5 linked regions of the Homo sapiens genome follow. The protein of the gene in region 3 interacts with the protein of the main gene of each other region in a biochemical or structural test. Each region holds a gene or a part of one and is shown on either strand. Other genes may lie near its edges.

Region 1 (6,271 bases), on a different chromosome or scaffold from region 3:
GGAAAATTTTAGTTTGGAGACTATCATATTGATTTAGAGAAGAGACTATTTTAAGGGAGAGAGAAGTCATATTTAAATTTGTCGTGGCTCAGTCATTTAAGACCATGTGCCTATTAATCAGTGGCATCTTCATTTACCTCTGCCGCAGTTTGAGTAGTGACCCTATTTCAGCATTCTCCGTTTGAGACTGTGTGTGAGCTACTTGATGAGCATTTGTATGTAAGTCATAGCTATTTTGGGAAGGCTTGGAACTCCAGTGGCTGTGGCTGGCTGGAGTACTCCGATTCCTGGCCACCTGCAGAGTGATGACATTTACTGTTCTTCCCAGTGATTTGCCCTATACGGAAAGCTGATAAGCTTGGAATGCTTGATAATGTTTGCCCCTTTTATTTTTGCTAATAAAATGCTTCAAGTTACCAGGATAGGTTGAAGGAACTTACAGGAAAAGTACCTTTTGATCTTACAGGAAAGATTTTAATAACTTCTTCCTCATCTTGGTAAGTTTCATGTTAGAATGGATTCTTTTATTTTGAACTCTCTGAGGCATTCTACCTTTCCCTTAAAGGATATTTCATTGTTCTAGTTGAGGAGAGCTATCCTTCCCTGACACTCAGAAGCTATTTAAAGCCTAGACTGCTTCCCTTCCCTTATTGGTCAGTTGTACACAGGACAGACAAAACCCTTTATGGCCTCCCAAGAATTTTAGTGCGAGAAATATGTAGTACTCTTGAAATATGCTATCAGTATGGACTCGAATCTGAGAGTAGACACTTTATGATTTCACTAAATCCTCTAGACTGCAAACTGGTATTCGAATATCTAAAGAGGTTACATAGTGACAGATTCCTGTATTTTAATCAATTCTTGACTTCGATAGCAGCAAAATTTACTGTTATTACAGGAGAAACAACTTGAAGTCAGTTTGGTTCTTATAAACCTGTCATTCTTGGCAGCTGTACTGAGGGTTCACATCACACATTCTTTATGTCAGCTGAAGCCTTATAAAAACCTGCCAGTTTCAGTGAAAATTTAATGCCCTTTTTGCTTTCTCTTGATTTATTGACCTTTCGTTTCCTTTTGTCTCATTAACTGATTTTTAAAACATCAGTAAGTCAGTGATTGGTTCCACAACTCTCATGCCCCTCTGCCCCCAAATGCAAACAGTATTTTTTTTTTTTTTTGAGACGGAGTCTCGCTCTGTTGCCCAGGCTGAAGTGCAGTGGCGCGATCTCTGCTCACTGCAAGCTCCGCCCCCCGGGTTCATGCCATTCTCCAGCCTCAGCCTCCTGAGTAGCTGGGACTACAGGTGCCCACCACCACGCCCGGCTGATGTTTCTGTATTTTTAGTAGAGACGGGGTTTCACAGTGTTCGCCAGGATGGTCTCGATCTCCTGACCTCATGATCCGCCCGCCTCGGTCTGCAAACAGTATTTTTAAGACTTACTGGCAAATAGCATCTTACCAGGCGAGATCTCTCCATGTGTTCTGTTTCATCAAAGAAATTAAATCAATAGTAAAATGAAGCAAGTACTTAACAAGGAAAATAATGCTGGTAATAGTAATAGCTAATGCTAATTGAGCATGCACTATGTGCCAGACTCGGTGCTCAGAACTTAACATAGCATTCTCTCAGTACTTACACAACTCCATGAAGTTTCTATGAGAAGGCTTATACTTGTTAAGTAATTCGTCCAAGGTCACCCAGTGAGGATATGGTACAGTTGGAATTGTATCTAGGCAGTTCTGACCCCAAGAGCCCAAGGCGCCCCTGGTCCTATCTCATAGTTGATGGGCCCATTGCCCTGGATCACAGACTTTCCACTACTCTTATAATGCCTTTTCTAGAACTCTCCTAATGTTTTAAACTTCCAGTCCTCCCTACAGTCTTTCTAAATAGATAATCTTCTTTTCTACTTGACTGAGCTCGCTGATGTCTAAAAAGAGCTCCCTGCCTTCTGTTTTGTCCCCCTCTCCCTACGCCATCTCATCTCTTTTCTCTTATTTCAGTGGAAAAGGTTCCCTTCCTTTTTCCCCCTTTCATTTCTTAGAGATAAACCTAGATTAATGGTTTTTACTAGGGAGAGATTTTGTAATCTAGGAAGCATTTGGCAATGTCTGGAGACTTTGATTGTGACTCTGGAGGGAGGATGCTACTGGAATGTAGTGCGTAGAAGCCGGGAATGCTGCTAAACATCCTGCAGTGTACAGGAGTAAGCCCCTCTAAACAGAGTTATGTGTAAATTGTATAAAATAGTGCTGAGCTTGACAAACTCTGATCTAGATGATGTCTCTCTTCTCTTTCTATTATGTCCCTTCTCCTTAGTCCTAGTCTAACCCCCAGACACCTTCACTGTCTTCTCCCTTGCTACTCACATTATGGTCCACAGACCAGCAGCATTCACATCCCCTAGGATTTAGACATGCAGAAAGTTGAGTGTGCTAGAGCCAGCTTGCTCTGCCTCTCCAGCTGATTTTGTACATCTCTTTCCAGCTCTGTGTTCAATGACCTCGTGTTGATAACTGTGCCAAGGTGGGAATATTTATACCAAGGAAACAAGCATACACTGCCAATCAGCATACCACTGCCTGTACCCCCACTCTAGACCTATTCAATCAGTTTCTGCCTTTTGACAAGATTCTTGGGTGATTCATTTGCATATTACATTTTGAATTTGCATTTTCCATTTTACCGTGCACTTGTCCTCTATCTTGAAACCAAATAACAACAACAAAAGTGTCTATTGCCCAGTCCAGCTGTTGTCTCCACCTTCCTCCTCTTGTTTGCTTTTGGAACAAAGTTTCTAACCCCACCTGTTTCATTTCTAAAACATTTTTCCAGTGACAATGTATTCAGACTCAATATACAAAACTTGGAAAAGACAGACTTGAGCAAGACTAACTCTTAGCTGACAGGAGATTGAGGAAGGTTGGTTCCCAGATTCTGCTACAGAGCTTAAGGTGGCAATAACAGCTTCTGCAAAAGCCAAATAATGAGATGGCCGTGTGGACCAGTCTGGGCTCCAGCAAATGGCTGATTGTTCAGAGGCCTGCAGAGGGACTGACTAGGCAGCAGCAGGTTAGGTTGAAAGGCAGTGAGTGGTTTTATGTAATCAGAATCTGCTCAGCAGCCTACTTTGCCAAGGCAGGATCTCTCCCTCTGTCACCCAGACTGGGGTGCAGCGATGTGATTATAGCTCACTTTGGCCTTGACCTCCTAGGCTCAAGCGATCCTCCCACCTCAGCCTCCTGAGTAGCTGGGACCACAGGCGTGCATCACCGCACTTGGCTGTTTTTTTAATTTTTTATAGAGACGAGGTCTTGCTATGTTGCCCAGGCTGGTCTTGAACTCCTGGGCTCAAGCAGTCCTCCTGCCTTGGCCTCCCAAAGTGTTGGGATTACAGGCATGAGCCACCACACCTGGCCCCCTCATACTTTTATTATTTTATGCTTTTATGATCCCTCATTACCACTTTTTTGCTGTTACTTTTTTCTTGTTTTGTTTTTTGAGACGGAGTTTCGCTCTTGTTGCCCAGGGTGGAGTGCATTGGCACGATCTTGGCTCACTGCATCCTCCGCCTCCTGGGTTCAAGTGATTCTCCTGCCTCAGCCTCCCGAGTGGCTGGGATTACAGGCATGCACCACCATGCCCAGCTAATTTTGTATTTTTAGTAGAGACAGGGTTTCTCCATGTTTGTCAGGTTGGTCTTGAACTCCTGACCCCAGGTGATCTGCCCACCTCAGCCTCCCAAAGTGCTGGGATTACAGGCGTGAACACCTGGCTCCAAATCTACATTTCTAATCCTGAGTTGCAAATGACTTCTATACTCTGTTTCCCAGTGCTTTTTGAACAGGTCTGCTTGAATATCAACCTCCTTGGCTATAAACGTTTGCTTCATACTTATTTTCCCAGGGTTGTTATACTAGGCATGGGAATGTACACTTGTATTACTCGTGTCTGCCATATGCTATGTACCACCCTAAGCACTTTTCCATACATTTTTATTTACAAAAACCCAGCAAGGTGTGAACTATTACCCTATTACTGATGAGGAAACTGAGATGTCTTGTTTGTTTTTTGAGATAGGGTTTCACTCTGTCACCCAAGCTGGAGTGTGGTGACACCGTCAAGGCTCACTGCAGCCTTGACCACCCAGACCCAAGCAATCCTCAGACACTTGAGTAGCTGGGACCACAGGTATGCACCACCACACCTGGCTACTTTTGTTTTATTTTATTTTTTGAGACGGACCGCAGTCTGTTGCCCAGGATGGAGTACAGTGGCGTGAGATCAGCTCACTGTAACCCCCGCCTTCCGGGTTCTATTGATTCTTCTGCCTCTGCCTCCCAAGTAGCTGGGATTACAGGCACATGCCACCACGCCTAATTTTTGTATTTTTAGTAGAGACGGGGTTTCACCATGTTGGCCAGGCTGGTCTTGAACACCTGACCTCCGGTGATCCGTCTGCCTTGGCCTCCCAAAGTGCTGGGATTATAGGCGTGAGCCACCGAACCCAGCCTGTGGTTAATTTTAAAAGTTTTTTTAGCAATGGGGTCTCTCTGTGTTGCCCAGGCTGGTCTCAAACTTATGAACCAAGTCATCCTGCCTCAGCCTCCAAAAGTGCTGGGATTACAGGCATGAGCCACCGTGCCTGACCTCAGATGTTAGTATGCCTTATAAGGGCCTCATATGAGATTTATTTTATTTATTCCTTTTCTTTCTTTTGTCTTTTTTTTTTTTTTTTGAGACATGGTCTTACTCTGTCACCTAGGCTGGAGTAGTGCAGTGGCTCTATCATGGCTCACTGCAGCCTCAACCTCCTGGGCCCAAGCAATTCTCCTACCTCAGCCTACAGAGTAGCTGGAACTACAGACATGTGCCACCATGCCTAGCTAATATTTTTAGTTTTTGTAGAGATGGGGGGTCTCTTTATGTTGCCCAGGCTGGTTTTGAACTCCCGCGCTCCAGTGATCCTCCCGCCTGAGCCTCCCAAAGTTTTGGGATTACAGGCGTGAACCATGGTACCTATCTCTTTTTTTCTTTATTCGTATGAGATTTTAAACTGAAGTCTGTTTGCTTCTATCTTACAGATGAGAAATGCAGCTTATGACCATGATTGAATTATAAGTAGCAGAGCTGTGACTTCAAGCCATTCTGACTTGAAGCATAACATTTCTCCGACTTTAGTACAAGCCTTTCTAAAACCAAAGTTTCTGACTTACCACTTGACTATGTAGCACTTTAATAATTTTAATAACTTTTCATTGAACCCTCATAGGCACTCTATGAAATAAAATTTAGTATGAGCAGGAAGTAGAATTTGCAAAGTGACACAGCAAGTAAGTGATAAAACCAAAACTATAACACAGGATATCAGTATTTTTACTGTAAACTCTAGAGGAGTTTAGTTGAACAGGCAAGTCCCAGTATTTTTCATTTCTATTGCATTTCTTCATTTTGCTAACAATTTATTTGCAGTACTTCCTTTGATAGTCATACAGGGCTGTCAAAGCTTTTGGTGTACTTCATTTTCCATTCTGGAAACTGATGCTGAGGAAGATTGAGATTTGCCAGGAGGCTGATGTGTGCTGGAGTCTGGGCTGCATGGCACTATTTCCAGCGTCTAGGCTTTCTACGTAAAACAGGGGTCAAAATATCAGACACACAAAACCAAACTAAAGATCTGCCTCAGTAAGTACCAGCTGCATGCTACATGATGGCTGGTAGGCACTTTAACCCTAAGAAGATTTTCTAAACAACATTTTCTTTTTCAATCTTCTTGCCCAAGTTAGTACTTTCTTGTGTCCCCTCCCTCCCTCCCTTCCTCCCTTTCTTCCTCCCTCCCTTCCTCCCTCCCTCCCTCCCCCCTTCCTTCTTTCCTTTTGTGTGGGGATGTGTATACAGGTTTCCTTATTCATTTGTTTTTTCATAGAGTTGGGGTCTAGCTATGTTGCTCAGGCTGGAGTGCAGTGGCTATTCACAGGCATGATCGTGGTGTACTACTGTTTGAAAATCCTGGGCACAAGTGATCATTCTGCCTCAGCCTGCTGCAGAGCTGGAACTACAGGTGTGTGCCACTGCACCCAGGTGATTTTTTTTTTTTCAATTGAGGCAAAATTTATATAACATAAAATTATTTTAAAGTGGGGCTGGGTGAGGTGGCTCACTGAGGTCAGGAATTCAAGACCAGCCTGGCCAACATGGTGAAGCCCCGTCTCTACTAAAAAATATAAAAATTAGCCAGATGTGGTGGTGAGCACCTGTAATTCCAGC
Region 2 (6,271 bases), on a different chromosome or scaffold from region 3:
TCTTCCTTGGGTTCTAAAATCCCTACTCTGTCCACATTCTTCTCACTACTTTCAGAATCTTCCTAAGCTTGTACAGCGGACCCTTGAATAACATGGGTTGAAACTGCATGGGTCCATTTATATGCAGATTTTCTTCTGCCTCTGCCACCCCTGAGACAGTGAGACTAACTCCCCCTCTTCCTCTTCCTCTTTAGCCTACTCAACATGAAGACAAAGACAATGAAAATCTTGATGATCCACTTCTACTTAATGAATAGTAAGTATCCTCTCTCCTTTTTGTAATGCTGTTAATGTTTTCTCTAGTTTTTTTATTATAAGCATACAGTACATATTACATATGAAAAATATGTATTAATCAACTGTTCATGGTATCAGTAAGGCTTCCCGTCAATAGCAGACTACTGGTAAAGTGTGAGGGGAGATAAAAGTATACATGAGTTTTGTCTACATAGCGGTTGGCACCCCTAACTCCATGACTCCACGAGTCAACTGTACAATATGCAATGTCTAGGCTTTTTAGTGTAGTTGCTGGGAGGAAGAGGGAAAAGTATGCCTACTCCAGCTTCCCAGAAGCAAAATCTGTGCCAGATCATTCGTTTTCAATGTCTATATTTTTTCCATTTTCCTTTAATTTTTTAAAGTTCTTAAAGTCTTGCCAATAACAAAACTGAACAGATGAGTGTGTAATGAAAATAACTATACTCTAACAGTGCTTCTCTAAGTGGCCTGTGGATATGCTCTCCCAGAACTGAAAATTCTATGAAAATTTTTTAGATGTGACATCAATTCTATTATAATCTTACAAATACCCTTTGCCAGTTAAATAGACAAACTCGCTTTTTAAAATTATGACATTTCATAAGACTGTGGTCTCAAGCTATAGTTCCCCAAAGTACCTGAGGTGAGGCACTAAAACTAATTTCCTCCTCAAAGAAGGTGAAACTAAGTGTGAGAGATACTGCTCAGTATGTGGGGTGACCATTGCCTCAGTTTTCCTAGGACACTCCCAACATATAATTTTGTCCTGGAATAATTATTGACAGGGTCTTCTTTTATACTCACAATATCTCATTTTGCATGATAAGCTAATATATATGTTCATATCACCTATGATAAAGAATACGAAACCAGGAGGAAGACACCCAGCAAGCATAGACACCACCCCAGCCATCTCTTCTTCTCTTCAGGACACCAAGGTGTATATTTAACATTCATTAATGGAAGCATTAAGTAGCTCATATGGAAGGTCCATCTTCTTTTTCTCAGCAGCAACTTATTATTAGATATTTTGTGCTTATACTGTGAAATATAGCACCTGTAATGATAATGGGTAACTAAATGATATTGACTAAATAGTTGTAAACATATGTTCTAAGATTATACAAGAATATCTAGGATGCTAAAATTCTGCCAGTTGTACACTTAAAGAAAACATAGCCATCAATTTGCAATTACATGTGTAACTTCCTAGTCTTTACAGTGAAACTCTTCTATGAACAAAGTTTGCCAACTTCTCGGCACCTAAATCATTTAACTGTGATTTAATAGAAGTTCCATAAGTATGAACCTTTCTTTTTCAGTGTCCTCAGACACAAGTTCTCAACAGCCAGCTAGGCATCTCCAAACACACGTACTCAGCTGGCATCAACTCCCATCATGTTGGAACAATGCAGCATCCTTCCCCCAACCAAACCGGGTCTTCAGACTTCCCATTTCCTTCTATGGCATGACATTTTTCTCTAGTTCCCCACCAATGAAACTTCAATGCCAAGTTAGTCAAGGTTATGTGAAATATAGCCCATATTTTATTTTTTGTCCAATCTTCAACATCTCTCTTCAGGTTCTAGAAGAACAAGAACCCATCCTTTTTGGCAAGCATTCTCTATGCTCATTCCCCTATTCCTCCATCTACAGAATCCTACCTCAACTCAATTCATCCAAGAAGTTCTTCCTGGTGACTTCCAACCAGATGTGTTTTCTCCACCTTTAAAACTTCATAATATTTTCAGGTGCGATACGGCAGTTATGTTTCATATTCTTATATTATAGCTATTAGGTTGAACAACATGAAATTGTTGAACCTGTAAAAATGGCAATCCCATATGGTTCAATCTAATATTTCTCTCGGTTTTAGGGCTCATAAATAAAGAGCAGTCTCCATGAAAACAGGGGCTGAGTTAGGTCTCTCTTTTGGATCCCCTGAGAAGCCTAGGACATTGGAAGTGCTTAAGAAGTGTTTGTCAAAATAGACTCATAAATCAACACATGTCTTAGGCATATATGTTTGCAAAGTCAATCATCTGAAGCAATTAGTCTAACTACATATGAAATCGCTAATTGTTTTATGAATCAGCACAAATGGCAGTTTAGAACCTGAAGGTTTTGGCAATATAAAATGTTTTGATTCAAGGAGCTGTTTTAAAATTATTTATTTGTGAAGGAAACATCCTTGGATTTAGAGGTTGGCAGATACAGTGAAAATCTTTTTAGTTGACTGAAATAGAAAAAAAAAAAATCAAAACCCTTTTTAGCACATGCACTTCCCTTATAAAACCAAATTGCCTGAAAGCAGAGGCCAGCAGTTTGTGCACAACGAGTATGTGCCTCAACACCATCAGCAGGAGATGCAATGCAGAATGACAGGAACAATTTGCATTTCTGTAGCTTCTTTGTATACCCAAATTCTGAGAGCATTTTACAAAGCCATAAATATCGTTACCCACAAGAGACAGGGAAAGGATGCAGATACAAGGACGGACTTTGTGTACTCTGACCCAGGAGCCCCCCTGCGCGGAGCAGTGATACCCACACAGCTGTAAACCTGAGTGCAATTAATTGATGCTGGTTAAGAAAAGGGGAACATACATCTGCAGGGTCCTTCACAGTCACAGGGACCATTCCCAGAAAGCGTTTCGTCTTTCTTGCATTCACAAAGAATAGCGTCAACAAATGTTGAGTTGTATTTGCGAGTTTCCCCAACAAAGGACGGGTCTCTAGTTCTAGGTGATGGTGGTATTATCAGTCACCTCACCAGTCCCCCTAATTCCTACAAAAATCACCAATCCGAATGACATGTGTGTAGGGCTTTCATGGGGCTAGGAGCAGTGGGCTGCCAGAAGCTCTGCTGGGGCCAGGAGAGAAGAGAGCATCGTTCACACTTATTACGTTGCAGGGGCCTATTTCCAGGGACAATGTTACTGAACCTTGGAGAAATTCATGCAAAGGTATACTGTTGTTGTGCTCCAGGCTTCCTTCCCCATCAGCTGCAGAACTGTGCGATTCTGGTCCTGGCCAAGGAGTGCCCAAAGCTAGTTGCCAATGGGCCCCGGAGCCCACACCTCCTCTAGCGCAGCATAGCAGCAGCCCTCACTAACCTCCAGGGGTCACAATTGGGTTACAAATTCCTCACAGTGCAGGGACTGAGCAGCCTGATTGGGAACAATTTATTCGAATCCTTCTTCGTTAAGATTCAAATGGAATAAGTAAGGTAGAAATTGAACAGACACAGAAATTGTGCCTTGCTGCTCCTGTAGTCAGTAGACATTTATTCACTAAGCCTAGCTCGTGTGTTCTTTCTCTCTCTCTTTCTCACTCGCAGTTGTTCTTCCAATCTTTCCTGCTTGCTGTTTTAATGCATAATTAAGAAGGTCAGAATTAATGAAGCAGTGTGGAGTAAAGTTCAAGGAATCCCCAGGCACTATTTATTCTATTAGATCTCAGGCATGAATGTCAGATTGGCAGCGCAGGCGGCATGAGCAATGGAGCTGGCGGCATCCCAAGAACGGCCGCCAAGGGAGACTCACCTGCACAGTCCAGTCATTCCTCAGCTCCTTCCCTGCGAAAATCACACGCAACTGGTCAGCCGGAACCCCCTGTCGCTTAGCAACCACCTCCTTGAGCTGGAAGATGCTGGTGTCAGAATCGACCTCCACTGGGAAACCATGGCTGGAGTTGAACCTGACAAACACTGACCAAGGAAATTGGAAGGGAGAAGAGAAAGTGAGCATCACTCGAAGCCCTTAAATGGTGATAGCAACATTTCTCAACCGATTTACCCCTCGCAGCCCTTCAGTGAATGGTATATATTTTCTTTCACTTACAACAAAAAACTTAATGCTATAGAGCAATATTTGGGAAAAACAGAGTTAGTTACCCACGAGATTTCCCTTTCATATATTCGTCAGTGACCTGCAAACCAAAATTGCATTCTCCCTTTGACATCCATCCTGGGAAACAGAGAGACTTGAGCAGGACACTTGCTTGATTGGAATTGAAAGAGTCCCATGAGTTTATTGAAAAGACTCAGCTCTGACAGCATGTACACACTCACACTCCCTCCACAGTGACCCTCTTAATAAAAATAGGAGGCGATGTGTTAGCACTCAAGGTATAGCAATGGAAAAAAATCTAAGCTGCTCTATAGACCAGAGTGAAGACCCACTCGGGGCTATGGCTCAGAGCCCTAGACTTGGGTGGTCCTGGCCAAAATGCTCCACTGGGTCTATGAAGACAATTATTTGCCCTCTTTTTGGCAGGGAGGGGGTGGAGACACTAGTGACACCATTTGTCTTATTGAAGCCACTGTTCCCCGTGAGACCCAGGCTGCATCCTCTAGTCTGTCTGTCTGCATGCCGTCTTCTCACTGCACCTGCTGTCCCACCTCTTCAGCGTCTCTCACTGCCCTTTACTTTCCATTCTTTCTCTCACTGCTTGAAGTCACGCTCTCATCACATCTTTTCTAGAGTCTCATAATAGCCCCCAACTGGAGTCTTGATCCACGCCATCACCTCCAAAAGGCCCTACATAGTTCTGCAAAATGAGCCTTATTAATACAGAGCTATGTCACACCACTCAAATCCTTTAAGTCTCACACTGTCGGCTGGTGAGGAAAGACTCCAAGATCCCTTTCATCTAGCACAAACCTACATTCCAGCATTTTCTTCATTAATCTCCATGTGTACTCTTTTAAACTAAATGCTCCCAGAAAAAAAAAAATCACAAAAAACTGCTGCACACAACTTCTTGCTTTTATTCATGACCTCCCTCCTTCTCCTCTTCCTATTGAAATCCTGCCTACCTCCATGGCCCACTTCAAATGTGACCTCCCCCAAGAAGCTTCTGGCTATCAGCTACTGCAAAAGCCTGATCTTCCTTATTCAGGGCACCAGTGGCATTTACTATATATGTCTTTTAATATTCACCACATTCCTCATGGAAGCAGGATAGCACACGGGTTAAAAGAACATCCTGAAGCATTAGGAAGACCTATGAAAAATCCCCACAGACTCCTTTAATTGGCTTAGGATGCTAGGGGTCAATCTATTAACCTCCCTCTTTAGGTCTCAGTTCCCTTATCTTGAAAACATAAATAAACCACAGACCATATTATTCGGTTCATTAAATAATATTTATAGTATTTAAAACTATCGTCTTGTAACATTTAAAAATAATGGACATTTAGCTGTTTTTGATATACATTTTGCCTTCTTTAAAAGATAACAAACTCCTCAAGGGCAAGTGTTATTGTTTATTTACTGCTGTGTTTCCTTTAAATGTAGTACTATAGCTAATTATTTCTCAATACCAATGTGAGATGACCCACCTCATCATAATTATAATAATCATTACAATGCCAATAATAATCAGGCACTTACTATGTGCCAGACATTGTGCTCTCATATGGTTTTTCTAAGCCTCCCAGTGATCTGGTCAGGTCCCTATTATTATCCTTATTTTACAGAATAATAAACGAAGGCACAGGGAATGGGACCCACTTTTCTAAGGACATTAATTACTTTCTAATGGAACTGGGTTTCAAATTTATTTCAATCTAACTCTAAAGCTCATTCCATTTCTACTAAAATAGGCTTCCTGAAACCATCTCAGAAGAAAAGTCCAGGCCAGGCACAATGGCTCAAGCCTGTAATCCTAACACTTTGGGAGGCCAAGGGGCAAGGATGACTTGAGCCCAGAAGTTCAAGACCAGCCTGGGCAACAAAGTGAGACCCCATCTCTACAAAAAATTTTTTTAAACAATCAGCAGGGCGTGGTGGCGTGCACTTGCAGTCCCAGCTACTCTGGAGGCTGAGGTGGGATGACTGTGTAAGCCCAGGAATTAGAGGTTTCAGTGAGCTATGGTTGTGCCATTGCACTCAGTCACCCTGGGTGACAGAGACCTTGTCTAAAAAAAAAAAAAAAAAAAAAAAAAAAAAAAAAAAAAAGTCCACATTTCTATCCCTCATGATTAAAAAGATAACAATAAAAAGGCTTT
Region 3 (5,666 bases):
TATGCTCTCCAAACTGGTATTTGCTCAATATAGTGCTGTACCTTCATATATAAGTTTGTAATGACATTTTGTATATTTTCCCTTACGTTTCTATATACACATGTAATGAAGTGGTTAACATTATGTTGCTGATATATTAGGATGCTCAAGAATTCCTTCGATGTTTAATGGATTTGCTTCATGAAGAATTGAAAGAGCAAGTCATGGAAGTAGAAGAAGATCCGCAAACCATAACCACTGAGGAGACAATGGAAGAAGACAAGAGCCAGTCGGATGTAGATTTTCAGTCTTGTGAATCTTGTAGCAACAGTGATAGAGCAGAAAATGAAAATGGCTCTAGATGCTTTTCTGAAGATAATAATGAAACAACAATGTTAATTCAGGATGATGAAAACAATTCAGAAATGTCAAAGGATTGGCAAAAAGAGAAGATGTGCAATAAGATTAATAAAGTAAATTCTGAAGGCGAATTTGATAAAGATAGAGACTCTATATCTGAAACAGTCGACTTAAACAACCAGGAAACTGTCAAAGTGCAAATACACAGCAGAGCTTCAGGTGACAATTTAGTAGTTTGTTCATGAAAATGATAGTATTTCATTTGTAGACATGGGTGTTTAAATAATTGTTACTTTGGGTATTTCTAATTAGAATTATAGTTTAGCAGTATTTGCATGTGAGTATTAGTCATAAAATTATAGAACCCGAGGATAAAAGGAATTTTTTGGGTCATTTAATTATATAAGAAATTAATCCTCCTTTTGAAGTAAACATTTCATCAGATGTCTTTTGTGTAGTCATGCAGTAATCTAAAAAATTGGGCTCCCCAGAATTTTCTCTTTTATTTTAAGCAAATTATGTTGCGATCCTGGAAAAAAGCAAATAACCCAAATTGCAATTTTCTAATTATATACACTAGTAGATTTAGATTGTTGTCATTGGAGTCACATCAGATGTGTTTTAGTGTAGAAGTTGAATTAACTATAGTGAGCCCTGCTGTGATAGATTATGCCATGATACTAGTCAGTGTTCCTTTGAGAAAGAGCATGTGGCCAAATGAAAGTTGAATTGCTTTGTAATTTATCTCTTCAAGAGTTAACTTATCTTGGCTTAAAATGTGGTATGTAGTTTTCCAAAGCACACAAAATTGGGCCATTAGAGGTTCAAATTATGTGATCTTAAAATAAGTGGCAGACATGTAATGTAAAAAAGTTTATTTTCTGTAATTACTGAAGAGTGAGAGTAACTAAGCAATTTATTTAGGTATTTGAATGAATCCAAAATTTCTTCTTGAAAATATTATTAACTATAGGAAGACTTGTGGTTCACTTGGGTAAAGTGCACAGATGCTTTCTAATCGGGAAGACTAGGAGTGTTAGGCTCCTTAATTATACTGATCTTGTGTAGAAGTTGTTAGTGAATAAATATGTCAGGTATCAGTATTGAAAGACTTAGCTTTGACTGCTGTCCAGGCTTTTCTTGTCAAAAGCCCAGTTAAGCCTGATTAGGGACATACTCATCTTTGATTGCTCTGTAACAGGTTTGTTCTTACACATAGTAACAAGGGGATGACCTAAATCAGGAGTCTGAGCTTTTAGGTGTTTTAAGGGCTTGATGAAAAAAATCTGGCGAAGTCTGTAAGGCACACAAACCTAAAACACTTCATCTCTGGTCCGTTAGAGGAAAAAATTGCCAACTCCCCATCTAAATCTCATTAACTTTATTCCCTTCAGAAAGTCCTAGAGTGAGTTGTTTTTTCACTCCCAATATTATGCAGTCTGATTTAGTCATGATTGAAATATTGAGAAATGCCTGTGTGAAAAATGATTTTGCATTATCTGGAAAAATTTCTGAGTACATCCCCTTTCCAGATCTCTTACGAACAATTCTCTTTTCTTCACTCAAATAGTTACTGAGCACATTCCCTTGCCCTGGAATATGTTAGGCACTAGGAATCCAAAGCAAACAATCAAGGTAGCTCTTATATTTTCTTGATTCATCTTATAATTTAATTCTAAAAAAAGATTCTTTCCTGATGAAGTGGTGTATTTTTTATTATAGTAAGATAAAATAACTTATGATTACTTTATACCTACATTTCTTGATTTTGATTATTATGTTAGTTTGGGAGAATAATCGATTTTTCTTTCACATGGTTTTAGAACTTCTAAAAACCTGTCCTGAATATCTTTTTTTTTTTTTTTCCTGAAACAGGGTCTCATTCTGTCACCCAGGCTGGAGTGCAGTGGCATGATCACATCTCACCACAGCCTCAACCTCCTGGGCTCAAGTGATCCTCCCACCTCAGCCTCTTGAGTAGCCAGCACTACAGGTGTACACCACCATGCCCAGCTAATTTTTAGATTTTTTTGTAGAGATGGGGGTCTCATGATGTTGCGCAGTTGGTCTTGAACTCCTGGGCTCAAGCAGTCTTCCCACCTTGGCCTCCCAGTGTTGGGATTGTAGGCGTTAGCCACCCAGCCTAGCCTCTTTTTTTTTTTTTAATGCTATATTTGGACAAACAAGATCCTCTTTGGCTTTGTATTTCCACTGCTCACTTCCTAAACTGCCTGTAATAGTCGTGTGTTATAAACATTAGTTGGGATTGGGCACGGTGGTTCATGCCTATAATCCCAACACTTTGGGAGGCCAAAGTGGGTGGATCACTTGAGGCCAGGACTTTGAGACCAGCCTGGCCAAAATGGTGAAACCCCATCTCTACTAAAAATACAAAAATGAGGTGGGCCTGGTGGCACATGCCTGTAATCTCAGCTACTTGGGAGGCTGAGGCAGAAGAATCGCTTGAATCCAGGATGCGGAGGTTGCAGTGAGCTGAGATCGCACCTCTGCACTGCAGCCTGGGGGACAGAGGGAGACTCTGTCTCAAAAAAACAAGTAAACAAAAATTAGTTGGATTTCTGGGTAGAAGATTACTGTTATTTTGCTTAGTAAGCACTTTGTTAAGTATTTAACTTGACATTTGTTAATATGATTGTGTTCAAAATATCAAATTAAGAAACCTTTAACATTATTGGACAGTTAGAATAATTTTACTATTTAAGGTAATAATGCAAATTTTAAATCTTACAGAATATATCACTGATGTCCATTCGAATGACCTGTCTACACCACAGATCCTTCCATCAAATGAAGGTGTTAATCCACGTTTATCGGCAAGCCCTCCTAAATCAGGCAATTTGTGGCCAGGATTGGCACCACCACACAAAAAAGGTAAAACGTTTCTCTTATTCAGTCTCTTTTGCTTTGGGTCTTAGTTTAAAATGATGGTTTTGGTACTTGATAATTTAAAGTGTTAATTATGAAATATGATTTGATCTTTTAAAATTGATAGCATAATTTTACATAGACATGATTAAAAATTTTGTGTGTTGGTACTCTGCTTTTAAAATTTTACATACAGTTGAATTCACTTTTTCTTGTATAGAGCTTTATGAATTTTAACACTTGCAGCATAGATTCTTGTTACCACCACCACAAACAGAATACAGAACAGCTCTAACACCCCAAAGAATTCCTGCATAGTACTACTTTGTAATCAGATCATTTCTCTATTCCTATGTTCTGGCACCCTTGATCCTCTTTTCTTATTGTTTTGCCTTTTCCTAGAATGTCATATAAATGAAATCATATAGTATGTAGTCTTTTGATTTTTTTAAATCTTTTCATATGTAGTCTTTTGAAACAGGTTTGCCTCTCAGGATAATGCATTTGAAATTCAGATATGTTACTGCGTGTCTGAATAGTTTGTTCCTTTTACTACCAAGTAATGTTTCTTTTTTTTTGTTTTGTTTTGAGATGGAGTCTCACTGTCGCCCAGGCTGGAGTACAGTGGTGCAATCTTGGCCCACTGCAACCTCTGCCTGCCAGGTTCAAGCAGTTCTCCTGCCTCAGCCTCCCGAGTAGCTGGGACTACAGGTGCACGCCACCATGCCTGGCTAATTTTTTGTATTTTTAGTAGAGATGGGCCATGCTGGTCTCGAACTCCTGACCTTGTGATCTCCCCACCTCTGCCTCCCAAAGTGTTAGAATTACAGGCATGAGCCACCATGCCCGGCCTAATATCTCATTTTTTATGGGTATACCACTGTTTATTTACCTACTGGTGGACTTTTGAATTGTTTCCAATTTTTGGCAATTATGAATAATGTTGCTCTAAAATTTATGTATAGGTTTTTGTAAGAACATTTTTTCATTTGTCTAGGACAAATACCTAGAAGTGGGGTTACTGGGTTTTATGTTTGTTTAATGCTTATAGTTGTATTAAACTGCCAGACTTTTTACCAGAGTGTCTACCATTTAGTATTCCTTCCAGGTATATATGGGAGTTCCAGTATTATGTTTTCTTAGAAGAAAACATAGGAGAAAGTCTTCATGGCCTTGGGTTAGACAAAGAGTTCTTAAAGACATTAAAAGCATGATCCATTAAAGAAAAAAATTAAAGATTTTTGTTGACAAAGGACATTCAGAGAATGGAAAGATAAGGTTGGATGTATTTATAAATCATATAGCTAGCAAAGGACATGTATCCAGAAATATATAAAGAACTCTTAAAAACTTTAAATAATAGAATCTTTTCTTCAAATAAAGCCTTACCTGGAGACAAAAACAAATAAGTGAAAACAGAATTGCTCTCAAGTCAGGATAGGGAGACCGAACCCCTTCTATTTCATCTTTAGCTTGATGATGACTTTCATCATCTTTCCCTCACTTTCTAACCTCTTCCCCTCTTCTTTTGACTTGTAAAACATTTAAGTAAACATCCCAGTGATGAAGCATTTGTGGTTTTGTGCTAATTTAGAATTTTGTTCATTTTCTCATATGTACATTTATGGTGGCCAAGGATCATTTATACTTTAAAAAAAAAAACAGGCTGGGTGCGGTGGCTCACGCCTGTAATCTCAGTACTTTGGGAGGCTGAAGTGGGTGGATCATGAGGTCAGGAGATCGAGACTATCCTGGCTAACATGGTGAAACCCTGTCTCTACTAAAAATACAAAAAAATAGCTGGGCGTGGTGGTGGGCGCCTGTAGTCCCAGCTACTTGGGAGGCTAAGGTAGGAGAATGGCATGAACCCGGGAGGCAGAACTTGGCAGTGAGCCGAGATCGCACCACTGCACTCCAGTGTGGGCAACAGTGCGAGACTCCACCTCAAAACAAAAAAACAAAAAAAAACAACAAATATCTTAAGCCTTGTCTGCTTAGTTTCTTTTATTTTTTTAATACTTATGCTCTTTTGAAGAGTATTTTGAAAATTTTCAACACAGTAATTTTTACAGTTTAAGGATTCTAGAGATCATATACAAGTAAGATTGACAAGACAAAAAAAGATTCCAGAGAAAAATGTTAAAGGAGCTGCTTTGATTTTTTTTTAATGTTTTTCAATCCTAGCTCAGTCTGCATCTCCAAAGAGAAAAAAACAGCACAAGAAATACAGAAGTGTTATTTCAGACATATTTGATGGAACAATCATTAGTTCAGTGCAGTGTCTGACTTGTGACAGGGTGAGTATGAGGGTATTAGAATACACAGAAAATTCGTGTCAAATGATTTTTAAAAATGTGACAAGATGATGTGAAAAGTTTAATTCCTTCTCTTTGCTATTGATGAGCATACATGCATTTATTGTGTTTACATCAACACAAATT
Region 4 (6,271 bases), on a different chromosome or scaffold from region 3:
CCGTCCTCTTCCACACCATACAGACAGCCTGTCAGTGGCAGAGTAAGGCCAGCATGCAAATAGAGCAAAGGTATACAAGCCAAGTAATATCAAGACAAAAGTCAGGGATTATTACACTCTGAGATCATTTGAGACTCTAGATTTGTCTCTTAAACCAAAATTAGATTGTGTTAGCCAATGACTACATTTTCCCCTCTTAAACTAGATTGAGTTGTATTTTGCTACTTGCAATAAGAAGAATCCTAATATACTTATCAAATTGCCAGTGTTCCAAATTTAAAACTTTAATGATGATAAAGTTCAAGAAAATGACACTCTAAAATACAACTAGGTCAAACTTTCTAGAAGATAAACAGGCAATTACATTGAAAGCTTTAAAATGGATACTTTTTGACCCTGTAATTCTACTTCTTCTAATTTATTATTAAGAAAGAACCATGAGGCCGGGCATGGTGGCTCACGCCTGTAATCTCAGCACTTTTCTCACTTTTTTGAGAATAGGTTTGATAAAAAGGCAGTAATGGTAAAACAGACTATATCTGAAATCTGGAGAGTATTAAGAGCCATATATTATGTTAAGTACCCAACATTAATATTATCTAATTTAACCATCACCACAAGCCTACAAAATTCTGATACTCTTCCTCACTATTTAGATGGGAAAAAATGTAGATGTAAATTTTTTAAAAGCAGGTTAAAAACAGTACTCAGTCCCTAATCCTACAGTTATTAACATACAGATGTAACACAGAATTGAGAAATAGTAGACAATGGTCTCTACATAGTGAAAAAGCAGGTGATTTTTATTTCTTTGTGCACCTGTGTAGTTTTTAAATTTTTTCCTCCAAAATTTTAAAATTTCATTAACATTAAAATAGTTTAGCCAGATCAAATGATTGTAAACACACTCAGGGAACTCCTATTTAAATGGTATTCTATTATAAAGCAAAGAGAATAATCAATGCTCTTCTATTATAAAGCAAAGAAAATAAACCCCAACCTTACTATAAAGTAATAGAATTTAAATATCTATATCAAAAAAAGTCAAAGGAGATTCTTTAACTTTCTTCTTACCAATCAGTGAATCTCAGACAGGGAACTAAAGAATTAAAACATTCTTTTTAATTTTTTTTTTTTTTTTTTGGAGACAGCATCTCACACTGTCATCAGGCTGGAGTGCAGTGGCGCGATCTTGGCTCACTGCAACCTCTGCTTCCCAGGTTCAAGCGATTCTCCTGCCTCAGCCTCCGAGTAGCTGGGATTACAGGCATGTGCCACCACATCCTGCTATTTTTTTTTTTTTTTTTTTGTATTTTTAGTAGAGACGGGGTTTCTCCAAGTTGGTCAGGCTTGTCTTGAACTCCTGACCTCAGGTGATTCACCTGCCCCGGCCTCCCAAAATGGTGGGATTACAGGCAGGAGCCACCGTGCCGGGCCGACAATATTTCTAAAGAAACCTTTTAAAAACCTGCATTCTCTTTGTTCATCCAATTATTCAATCATTGTCTCATTTGTTAATTCAAATACTTATTAAGAGCTCACTGTGTACACCACGTACCAGTATTCACACCACAGATTTCTTTTTTAATTTTTTTGAAACACAGTCTTGCTCTGTCACCCAGGCTGGAGTGCAATGGGGCGATCTTGGCTCACCGCAACCTCCGCCTCCCAGGTTCAAGCAATTCTCCTGCCTCAGCCTCCTAAGTAGCTGGGATTACAGGCACCCGCCACCACGCCTGGCTAATTTTGGTATTTTTAGTAGAGATGGGGTTTCACCATGTTGGCCAGGCTGGTCTCGAACTCCTGACCTCAGGTGATCCACCCACCTCGGCATCCCAAAGTACTGGGATTACAAGCATGAGCCACCGCGCCCAGCCCACAAATTTCAAATTCAGCCTACTTGGGATTTGGTCCACTGAAACATATCCAGTTTTATAATGGAAAGGGGGAGGGTAGAAATCATTTTAAAGAAATTTGCTTAGCATCTGAATTTACAAGACTCTTAAGAACAGAAACGTATCCCAACCCTCAAAGACTTCAACTTTCGCCTTTAAACCTTATTTTTAACCATAGTATTTTTCAGCTGGAAAAACAAATCCTCCCAAACTACTTGGAAAAAAAAAAGGGGGAAACACGGGGGACCTGTCCTTAATGAGTGAAAATTGCAATATTAAATACTAGACACTTTTAAATTAATTTGCCTAAATATATTGTGACTTTTCAAACAAGTGAAGAACTACATACAGTAAACTATGTTCCATCACTACATTTTCCCATTTACAAGATAATAAATTTTCAAAATCATATGTTGAAATAATCTTTATGGTTAAAACTGTAACCGGTTAAGGTGAAATTTTAAAATAAAGAAACACTCATAAATAACAGTTGAGATCACCAGAACAGCTAAAAGCTAACATCTTGGGAACAGTTTTTAATAAAAATACATTATTTCAATTATTGTTTTAAATCTTAGAGAACAAATTTCCTAATTAAATTGGGCTTTATCAACAATAGAACAGGTGTACACTATTTTACCCAAAAAGTGTTTCTGTGAAAAAGTACTGGCATAACAAATCTAAGTCACTAGAAAAATTGAATTCTCCTTTTAGAGGTACTTACTCTCCTTTCAGTTAAAGCTTCCACTGGCAAACTGTAGTTAGCTTTCAGCTGGTTAATTATCCACAAACAAGCCCTTAAAAACAATCACTTCAACATATTAGATGGCTACCACTTTGCCACATTAGATGGCTAAGAAAGAAAGAGAAGAGAAGGAAGGAAAGAAAGAAAACAAGTGTTTAGAAGGATGTGGAGAAATAGGAACCCTTGTGCACTGTTGGTGGGAATGTAAACTGGTGCAACTGCTATAGAAAACAATATGGTGGTTCCTTGAAAATTAAAAAGGGTTACCATATGATCCAGCATCCCTCTTCTGGATATGTATCCAAAAAAAGTGAAAGCTTCAAAGAGAGATTTGCAGACTCATGTTCAGAGCAGCACAATAACCAAGATGTGGAAGCAACCCAAGTGTCCGTTGCTGGATGAATGGAGAAACAAAATATGGAACATATAATGGAATATTGCTCAGACTCAAAAAGGAAGGAAATTCTGACACATGCTACAACATGGATGAACCTTGAGGACATTACACAAAGTGAAATAAGCCCATCACAAAAATATTAAAACCCTATAATTCTATTTATATGAGGCATCTAGAGTAGTTAAATTTGCAGAAACAGAAAGTAAAATGGTGGTTGCCAGAGGCTGAGGAGAGGGGGAAATTGGGAGTTGTTTAATGGGTAAGATTTCAGCTTTGCAAGATGAAAAAGTTCTGGAAGTTAGTGGCACAATGTGAATATACTTAACACTACTGAACAGTACTTAGAAATGGTTAAGATGGTAAATTTTAGGTTAATGTTTTTGAACTACGATTTTAAAAAACAATCAAAAGCTATAAGAAAAAAGCCATGAGGTAATCACATTTTTGTTTTTATGAAACAAAAATTTTAAATTTTGTTTTAAAAATTCAGGTTTTAGATACTAGATTTCTCTAAAGGGATCATGTCTGGCAAATAAATAAGGGTTTATAAATTTCTACTGCAGAAAACATGAACATTAATACTCAACGCATATACAAAACAGTTAATTCTTGATGTGTCAAGAGACCAAGAGATATAATTATTTTTAAAATTCCAAAGCCTATAGTTAATTTAAACAATCTGACCATATTTTTACCAAAAATACTGAGCAACAAGAAGCTTGGCTTGTCTTAGTTTCAAATTCTCTTTCTAACCTTCCAGAGTTAAGCAGAAAACACATACACACACTGGGTAAAATCCACCCACTGGATAACTAGTCACAAAGTTTAAAAAATCAATTTCTTGATTGGAAACTCATCCAACATCACATTTAAATTTAGATTTTTTTATCCTGGTTAAGAAACAGACTTATGTTAATCTTAGATAAAGGGATACAGTATTTTAAGTATCTAAATTTAAAAAATTATATACTAAGAGAAGGCATCTATGAACACACAATTTAACCCAAATCTTTAACATCCATGCACATCAATTTTTATTTCACCACCAAACATAATAAACTGAGTTCTTCAGAAAAAAAAAAAAAATCAGTCAAGAGACTAAATAATCCCCCTCAGCTTTCTATACACCACTCTTGACATACAAGAATAGAATGTAACCACAAAATCTAAACCCTGAGCCGTGACACCATTAGAGTCACAGACAATGGCGTTAAAAGTAAAGACAATGGAAGTTAACAGGTAGAAAAGTTGACATTCTCCAAACTGCACAAGGTGCTCTGCAGTGGACCGTAGGAATGAACTCCAATACTTTCTCAGTCTAAAATAACTCGATAGTTCAGTAAATACACACGTGTGGAAGAGTGCATAGACTTCATACAAATTGAGCCACAAAACAGACCAGTAAGACAAGCTTGAAGTCTTGCCTTCAGATGGAACCCAATGGTCTTAACTCTGGAGAAACTCATAAGCAAAGGACAGTTTTTCTACCACGTAGCTGCTTTACTGAGAATATTTTATCAACTCATTATCTTTTACAAAGGTTAATTTTTATAAAATTGTCTAAACTTTGGCATCAAGACGAAAAATGTTTTAACTTACTGCCAGTACTAAGAATGCAGTGTCTTGCACATATCTTGCTTAAATGAACAGTAAGACTAGAATACTGTGTATGTTTGACTCTAGAGTCCAGAGTAAACTCAGTATTCTATTTGGGGAGAAAACACAGGGGTGAGCAATTGTGAAGCAGGAGGCCTCCACTAGAGTAGAGAGCAGATCAGATGCTCAAGAAAAATAACTGATACTAGGTGCCAATATAACCCAAGGATGTACTCTTTTGCCCATTGTAACAGGAAAAAAACGCTTTTCAAGCTCTGGATCCAATGTTAGTCTTTTCACTTTCAGGAGATAGAAAAGATGCATGAAGACACAGAAAAGAAACTAAAGGAAACAGCTGGAAGGACTAGCAAAAAAGAGTTTTAAGAGTTGTGGAAGTTTAAACAAGAATTTTAACAGGTAACATCTATTTTCAAGTACACAGTGTCATCAAGACTCCTGCAATGGGCTAAGTGCTTCACAAGCATTATCTCATTTAACCTTTACAATAACTGCTCAGATGGCTGCTATTCTTATCATCATTTCAAAAGGAGGAAAGAGGCTCAGAGGCATTCAGTAACTTGCTCAAGCTCACAAGTGAAGGGCTGGGACCCTTAACTCAGAGGTATCTGCCTCTAGATCCTATGCTCTTAACCACCATATGCTGCTTCCTCAAACAAAAGGACAATCAAAATAGAATCATAAGGAGAAAAGTTTGCTAATAAATGAGAGAGCTTCTTGACTTTTAATGGCCAAAGTTAATGAAGGAAATTAAGGAATATCTATTCTCAGAAATTTTACTTTAATGATTCAGTAATTATTTGTTTTGGAAAACTCTGAAGGAGTCTGGCCTGAAGCCTGAAACAGAATCATTACTCTCTTGACATTCCCTTAAAAATCTAAAAATCAAAATGCACGTGCTATTAAATAAGTTCAGCCCCTATAACTAGGAACAACATGAAATGTCCTGCGTTAAATCTACAGTATCATAACCATACCCATTTTCTATTCTGATTTCTTCCAATTCTTCAGGTTTTGAGTTTCCTAGACCTTCTTTTAAAAAGACAAATTTGTTTTCCAAACTCCGACATTGGGAGCTCATTTAAAATGAAAAAAAAAATTGCTTGAAGAAAATCTCCGTCCCTCAACCTCTCAGTTATCTTTCAAAAAACTGTAAATTAGTTAGAAAAGGTCATCTATTATAAACAGCATCTAAAAGTGCTGAGTAACCACCACTTATTAAGTGTTTAACTTAATTTTTCAGTTATATCAAGAACTTCTATACTAAGAAATATGAATCCATCCAATCCAAGGTTGCCAAGTTTTCAAATGAGAAAATTTTGAAAGTAACAGATGGGCTGAGGAAAATCTAAGAGCTTATTTAGAATTGGGGCTGATGAACAGTAGCTAATTTATTAATTCGTTTCAAAACTGCTTCTGATATTCTGAACGGATGAATGGCAAAACAATGAGTTCGATACTGTATATAAAAAAAGTGGTACATAATTTAATGCATTGTATTAAGTATGATTCAATATATAATAAGGATAGAAAACTGGCACTACACAGAGGTAATCTGCCTTAGGTTTACAATATAGCAGCTTTATCATTTCATCAAAAGCACTGTAATCACCTCCGCAA
Region 5 (6,271 bases), on a different chromosome or scaffold from region 3:
TGCAGATAATGACTGTCTCATGGTAACTCGGGTAACTAACTTCCATACCTAGGCAAGTATAAAGATTTATTTCATTCTGTGTAAGTACTACAGTTTCTCTTTATTTGTAAGCAGTGAATGATTTTTATCTAAAAACTGATTTTCTAGAGATGAAAATAAGTTACACAAGTGTGAGATGAAGAGAAACATACTTTATGATGTATTTAGTTCTAGACTTTATATTGAGAAGTAAATCAAAATTAATACGAGAGTAATACCTTTTTAAAAAGCAAGAAGAAGGTAGCACTGATTTGTATAAGGAATAAAGCAGTCTCAAAATGATATTTGTTGATCTGTGTTTCAATTTCAACAAGAGATCAGAAAAACACGAACAAAATTTAGAGTTTAGGAACTATAGGAAAGAGATAAATGAACTAGAATTGTATCGCTTAGGATGAATTAAAAACAATTTTCAGATACATGGTGGTTTCTTCTGATGAGACAAAAAGATAATTTGCTTAAGGTACATATGAGTATTTTAGGAACATATTTAAGGAATGGTAGTTAATGAGTTACAAAGAAAATTATGGGTTATAAAATACTCTCTTTGGAAAAAAAGTTTTTGAAACAGAGTCTCGCTGTGTCGCCCAGGCTAGAGTACAGTGCGTGGTCTCGGCTCACCGCAACCACCTCCAGGGTTCAAGTGATCCTCCCACCTCAGCCTCCGCAGTAGCTGGGCCTGCAGGCACATGCCACCACGCCCAGCTAATTTTTTATTTTTAGTAGAGACAGGGTTTCCCCATGTTACCCGGGTTGGTCTCGAACTCCTGGCCTCAAGTGATCTGCCTACCTTGGCCTCCCAGAGGGCCGGGATTACAGGTGTGAACCACCTGCAAAATTTCTGGCCTGGAAATTTTTAAAGAAATGGGCCTATTATGAGTAAGTAAAACATAACCACAAATCATCCAAAGCACTGCTTCGTTTCCACCATTTTTATTAAATGTTATTCATCTGCCAATCATTTTCAGTAATTTTTATGTGTGATTATGTTAAGTGGTAATGTGTAGTTAACTTTTGCAGTTTAGCAAAACATTGCATGCCATTTTTGTATAAACCCTAATAACTGTAGTAGGTAACTTTACAGAGTAAGTAATTTGTGTGTGAAGTCATTTAAAATCTCTGTGACATTTTCATTTCAATAATTGCCAAAGAATCTGATCAGTGAAGTTTTAGACAAGAGACATTGATTTCAGTTTTTAGAGCTTTCTGTCCATTCCGACTTTTACTTAGAAATCTTTGAGGCTTAATTTTATTTGATCCCTTATGTTCGTGCAACTTTGAAACTAAAAGAAAATAACCTTATACTCACAAATCCCTTAATAATGAAAAGGAACACTATTACTCAACATGAATTTCAAAATATTTAGTGTATACTTAAAGAAATTTTTATATTACTATTACTTTTAAAATTAGTTTCAGTAGTGCCAGGGTGTTTACGACCAGAGTAGGGTATATACTACATCATTTATAGGAAATGAAACTAAAAGGAAAAACTTCTTCAGTCTTGGTAAATTGGTGAAAACAAGGACAGAGATAGTGACCTTAAGGCATGTTTCACATCTTAGATGCTTAAAAATCTAGGAAAGCAACTTTTCTTAATTTAAGCCTTTTTCGTAAGTTTTTAAATGACTTCTGTTAGTGAGTCCAGGGTTAATGTACCCTAATAGTCCAGGAAGGTCCAGAGCTAGTCAATGATTTCGTTTATCTGTTTTGTGAAATTAAGGCTTTTTTTCCTAAATTATACCATTTTCCTGTTAGCACATATAAGGCATTAAATGACCTTTTTGCAAAATGGTTTTGTGACAGTTAACAATTTTGCTTCTACGTAAGTGTAACAAGATAAAATCAGTTTGTCAGGCCATGACCTGTAATATTACATTTAAAAACACTATGTGCCAGGTACTGTTATAAATGCATATTGACTTATTTACTCATCACCATATTACCACAATTCTGGGAATCGGTGTTATTCACATTTGACAAAATAGGAATCATAGGCTCAAAAAGGTTTTCACATAGTGGTATAGCTGGGATTTGAACCCAAGTAGTTTAGGTCTTTGGTTTGTGCCCTTAAAGCACTGTACCACATTGCCTCTGATTTTATTTAAAAAAATTTTTTCTAGAGACAGAGTCTCGCTTCATCACCCAGGCTGGAGTGTAGTGGCATAGTCATAGCTCACTGTAGCTTCAAACTCCTTGGCTCAAGCAATTTTCCTGCCTCAGCCTCTGAAATAGCTGGAACTACAGGTGTGCGCCACCACACCCAGCTAATTTTTAAAGTTTTTGTGGAGACGGGATCTTACTGTGTTGCCTAGACTGGTTTGAAACTCCTGACCTCAAATGATCCTCTGACTTCAGCCTCGCAAGTATTAATAGCTGGGATTACAGGTGTGAACCCCTATGCCCAGCCTCTGTCTCTTATTTTAAAGATTCATTTTTTAAAAAGTAGATTCACTTTAAAAAGAAAAGAACCTATTTTTCTTTTTAAAGGAAGTCTATTTTATATTTAGTAGCAGAATTCTACCATTTGCCTCTTGTGACTGTTCAGTTTAGATATGATAGAACATGTAGGAAATCTTAACACCTTGCTTCTGGATATTAAAACATGCTTAAAGATTGATAGGTGAATAATTGAATGTACAGAGCAAATGTCATTTTGATCCACAAGTACATTCAGACAAAAAAATTTGAGGTCATTTACTATTGAGCTTTTGAATTTTAATTGTCTATCAATAATCATAAGCTCTTATTAGAGATGATATGGCCCCTTCACATATAGTTTTACAGAAATAACCCATGAAGCATATAGTAAGATCTTGTAGGCTATTTTGTTTCGGTACTTGGTCCATATTTTAAAAGTATGGTATTGGTTTACTATAAGCCACAAATACATACGGCTTTCTTCTTGGACTTAAATCCATATGAACCACTCAGCACAGAAAATGCAAATATGAATGCATTATTATGTTCACCAACTGATTTTTTCCCTAGAGATAACTCTTAAAGAATTTTTGAAGTGAAAGAACATTTAAATTAAGATAGTGGAAGATACAATGATAATAAAACAGTCAATTTTGCTATCTTAGTCTTGAATTTATCTTATGATGTGAGTTTAGAGTGATTCTTCTTTTTTTCACTGAAAATCACTTCATTAATAAGTCATGATTATTGACAAAAGTAAATTGAAACCATTGGGCATATTGGTAGGGAAATAAGGGGAAGATAGAGAACAACTGATAAAGGTTGATTATGTGCATTACGAGATTTGATCCTCAAAAGAAGGACCAAAATATATATATTTATATGACTTATAGATGAGGAATCTGAGAGAAATTAATTTGCTTGCTCATAGTTTACTACCAGCGGACATTTATTAAATGCTTAGTCTGTCGCAGCCACTATTTTAAATGCTTTACACTTACATAGCCTTTAAAGTACATGCTCTTATTACACTTCATTTTATCTTTGATGATTTCAGAGCTGGTTTAAATACCTGGTTTATAAAGATTTAAAGTACTAGATACTATCTAATACTAAGAATAGATCCTTAGTATTAAAAATGGTTTTATGCTGTCACTACTCGAATGTAATTCAAACAATATTTCATTAAACCATGGGAATTTCTCTTTTTTCTTAGTCCTTGTATAGAATTTTTCAACAATTACTAAATACTTTTTTTCTTCCCTGAGTAATGTCAGTCTAGCTTGTTTCTTTTAATTTCCTCACTTACCACTGTAATTCACATTCTGTGTCTCATATTCATTCCTCTGAAGCCACTTCGCCAGACTCGTTCTCCCATTTATCCTTTAAACAGGGGAATGTAGATCCTTTAGATTTTATCACCCAGTTTACACAAAAGTCACTATTCAAGAAATCTAGCATAAGCCTAGTAAGTAGCCTCAGTTTTGGATACAGATTAAAATTATTTGAGGGAAGGGTCAAAAATGGCTCCTTACAAAGAAGGAAATAAGTTCCAATTATAATATAAAACAGAAAACCCCTGTAGGATTAACCTGCATTTGATTATGTCTAGACTGCCTTTACTACTTCCATCACTAAGATTCTACATGGTTTCCTTATAGCTCTCCAAAAAGAAAAGAGTAATGATGCCTTTTTTTCCTCCAAGGAATGGAGAACTAAGAATGCTAACTGTCCCTTCCATTCTCCCTTTAGTTTTGAGAAGACCCAGATATTAGCGTGGTAATTCCCCACCATAAGAGAAAATCATTTAGCAGAAGTACCAGTAGCAAGGACTTCTTTGTGAAGGAAGTCAAAGATCTCACAAAGAAGTTCAAGGGTGGCTCTGAGGCCAGGGTATTCTAAGTTTAGAGCCAGTTAAATCAAGACCTGAGAACATTTAGAGACAAAGTTACTTAACTGAAAAGAGCATCAAGTTCCTTGTTCCAGGTAGAAAACACCTGGTAATCTGGATTGATTTCTGTTATTTACCCATATGTTTTTACAGCTTAACAAAGTTTAACAGGTTAGTCAAGAGATTTGCCTTTGATAAAAAGATGGGAAATTTATATTCATACATTTGAATGGATTTCAAGCTGAAGAACTTTTTAATTCTCAGGAGAGATGTAGCTAAGTATTTATATGTACCACATAGTTGTGGCTATGGTTTACAATAACTTATTACTCATTTACTATGTTAAGAGCATTTTAAAAGTTCTCTAGATACAGGTTCCATATATAATGTAATATATTTATTCCAAATATATTACATATATGAAATACATGGTAGTATTCTCATTTTACCAGTACAGAAACTGGGATAGTTAAATGTATATGGTCATAACACTTAGTCAGTGGTAGAGCAGGAGGTCTAACTTAAAGCTTGCATTTTAAATTCTAAGTGTACTGCCTGCCTATGTGTGATAGAGCCATACCCAGATTATGGAAGCAACTTTTTGAAAGACAAATACTTGAAAGTATTAAAATCAAGAAATGACAGCTTTGTAATACTTGTTAAACACATTTTCATTTGTTATTAATATCAAGAGCCTCTAGAATTTTGTGAGTCTTCTTGTTTTAGCCTTGTAGTCTCAGCAGTCTCATTTCTAATTAACATATCTCTGTTTTGATACAGATAGTGTCTCCCATTTCCTGCAAATTATTTGCTTTTTCCTGCTTTTGGGGCCTTTATGCCCCATTTCTGTTGTTTCAGATACTTCTTAAAAATTACTGACTTTCATTTCAAAACCTAGTTCAAAGTCAGTCTCTAAAACCACCTCTAATCTCATCCAAATTTGTGGCCCCTCCATTCTTTGCTTTTAAAATATATATGTATATATAAAACAGCTTTATTGTGATGCTATTCACATACCTTACAATTTGCCCACTTAAAGTGGACAGTTCACTGGGTTTTAGTATACTCGAAAGAGTTGTGCAGCCATGACCATAATCAATTTTGGAATCCAAAAAGGAACCTCATACCCATTAATAGTCACCTCCCATTTCTCTCCCAAACTCCTCTGTTCTAGGCAGCTACTAATCTATTTTCTGTCTTTATATATTTGCCTATTCTGGATATTTTATATAAATGGAATCGTATAGTATGTGCGATTTTTGCATCTTGCTTCTTTTACTTAGCATACATGTTTTCTAGGTTCATGCATGTTATAGCATATATCAATGTTTATTTTTACTGCTGAATGATACAGTCATGAGTCACTTAATGACAAGGATAACTTCTGAGAAATGTATGGTTAGGCAATTTTGTCGTTGTGTGAACATCTTAAGGGGGTACTTACACAAATCTAGATGGGATTGCCTACTACATACCTAGGATGTATTGCCTATTGCTCCTAGGCAAAAAAAACCTGTACAACATGTTACTGTAGTGCATACTGTAGTCAATTCTAATACAATGGTAAGTATATATATATGTGTGTGTGTATAAATATATATATGTGTGTGTGTGTATATATATATATCTAAACATAGAAAAGGTAGAGTAAAAATACAATATTATGATCTTTTTTGTTTTTAGAGACAGGGTCTGGCTCTGTCACCCAGACTGAAATGCAGTAGCCCAATATTGGCTCACATTGCCCTTGATCTCCTGGGCTCAAGCAATTCCACTGCCTCATCCTCCCAATTAGCTAGGACTACAGGCAAGCACCACTGTGTCTATTTTTTATTTTTATTTTTTTGTAGAAATGAGGATCTTGCTGTGTTGCCCAGGCTGGTCTTGAACTCCTGGCCTCAAGCACTCCTCCCACCTTAG

The links.
Region 1: of the proteins of USP33 (region 3) and USP28, one has a biochemical effect on the other in vitro, tested with the Homo sapiens proteins (one large-scale study listed by BioGRID).
Region 2: the proteins of USP33 (region 3) and PRKN form a complex in vitro, tested with the Homo sapiens proteins (one study listed by BioGRID).
Region 4: the proteins of USP33 (region 3) and HIF1A interact in a biophysical measurement, tested with the Homo sapiens proteins (one large-scale study listed by IntAct).
Region 5: of the proteins of USP33 (region 3) and USP15, one has a biochemical effect on the other in vitro, tested with the Homo sapiens proteins (one large-scale study listed by BioGRID).

Annotation. Positions count from the first base shown.
Region 1 is NC_000011.10:113,867,397-113,873,667, reverse strand, and holds part of USP28 (ubiquitin carboxyl-terminal hydrolase 28), read left to right. Parts: intron 1-6,271. UniProt on the Homo sapiens protein: Deubiquitinase involved in DNA damage response checkpoint and MYC proto-oncogene stability. Involved in DNA damage induced apoptosis by specifically deubiquitinating proteins of the DNA damage pathway such as CLSPN.
Region 2 is NC_000006.12:162,439,507-162,445,777, forward strand, and holds part of PRKN (E3 ubiquitin-protein ligase parkin), read right to left. Parts: intron 3,968-6,271; coding exon 3,804-3,967; intron 1-3,803. UniProt on the Homo sapiens protein: Functions within a multiprotein E3 ubiquitin ligase complex, catalyzing the covalent attachment of ubiquitin moieties onto substrate proteins. Substrates include SYT11 and VDAC1.
Region 3 is NC_000001.11:77,723,187-77,728,852, reverse strand, and holds part of USP33 (ubiquitin carboxyl-terminal hydrolase 33), read left to right. Parts: intron 1-140; coding exon 141-558; intron 559-3,090; coding exon 3,091-3,231; intron 3,232-5,409; coding exon 5,410-5,522; intron 5,523-5,666. UniProt on the Homo sapiens protein: Deubiquitinating enzyme involved in various processes such as centrosome duplication, cellular migration and beta-2 adrenergic receptor/ADRB2 recycling.
Region 4 is NC_000014.9:61,697,312-61,703,582, reverse strand, and holds part of HIF1A (hypoxia-inducible factor 1-alpha), read right to left. Parts: intron 5,872-6,271; exon of another isoform or gene 5,733-5,871; coding exon of another isoform or gene 5,629-5,732; intron 1-5,628.
Region 5 is NC_000012.12:62,263,404-62,269,674, forward strand, and holds part of USP15 (ubiquitin carboxyl-terminal hydrolase 15), read left to right. Parts: intron 1-6,271. UniProt on the Homo sapiens protein: Hydrolase that removes conjugated ubiquitin from target proteins and regulates various pathways such as the TGF-beta receptor signaling, NF-kappa-B and RNF41/NRDP1-PRKN pathways.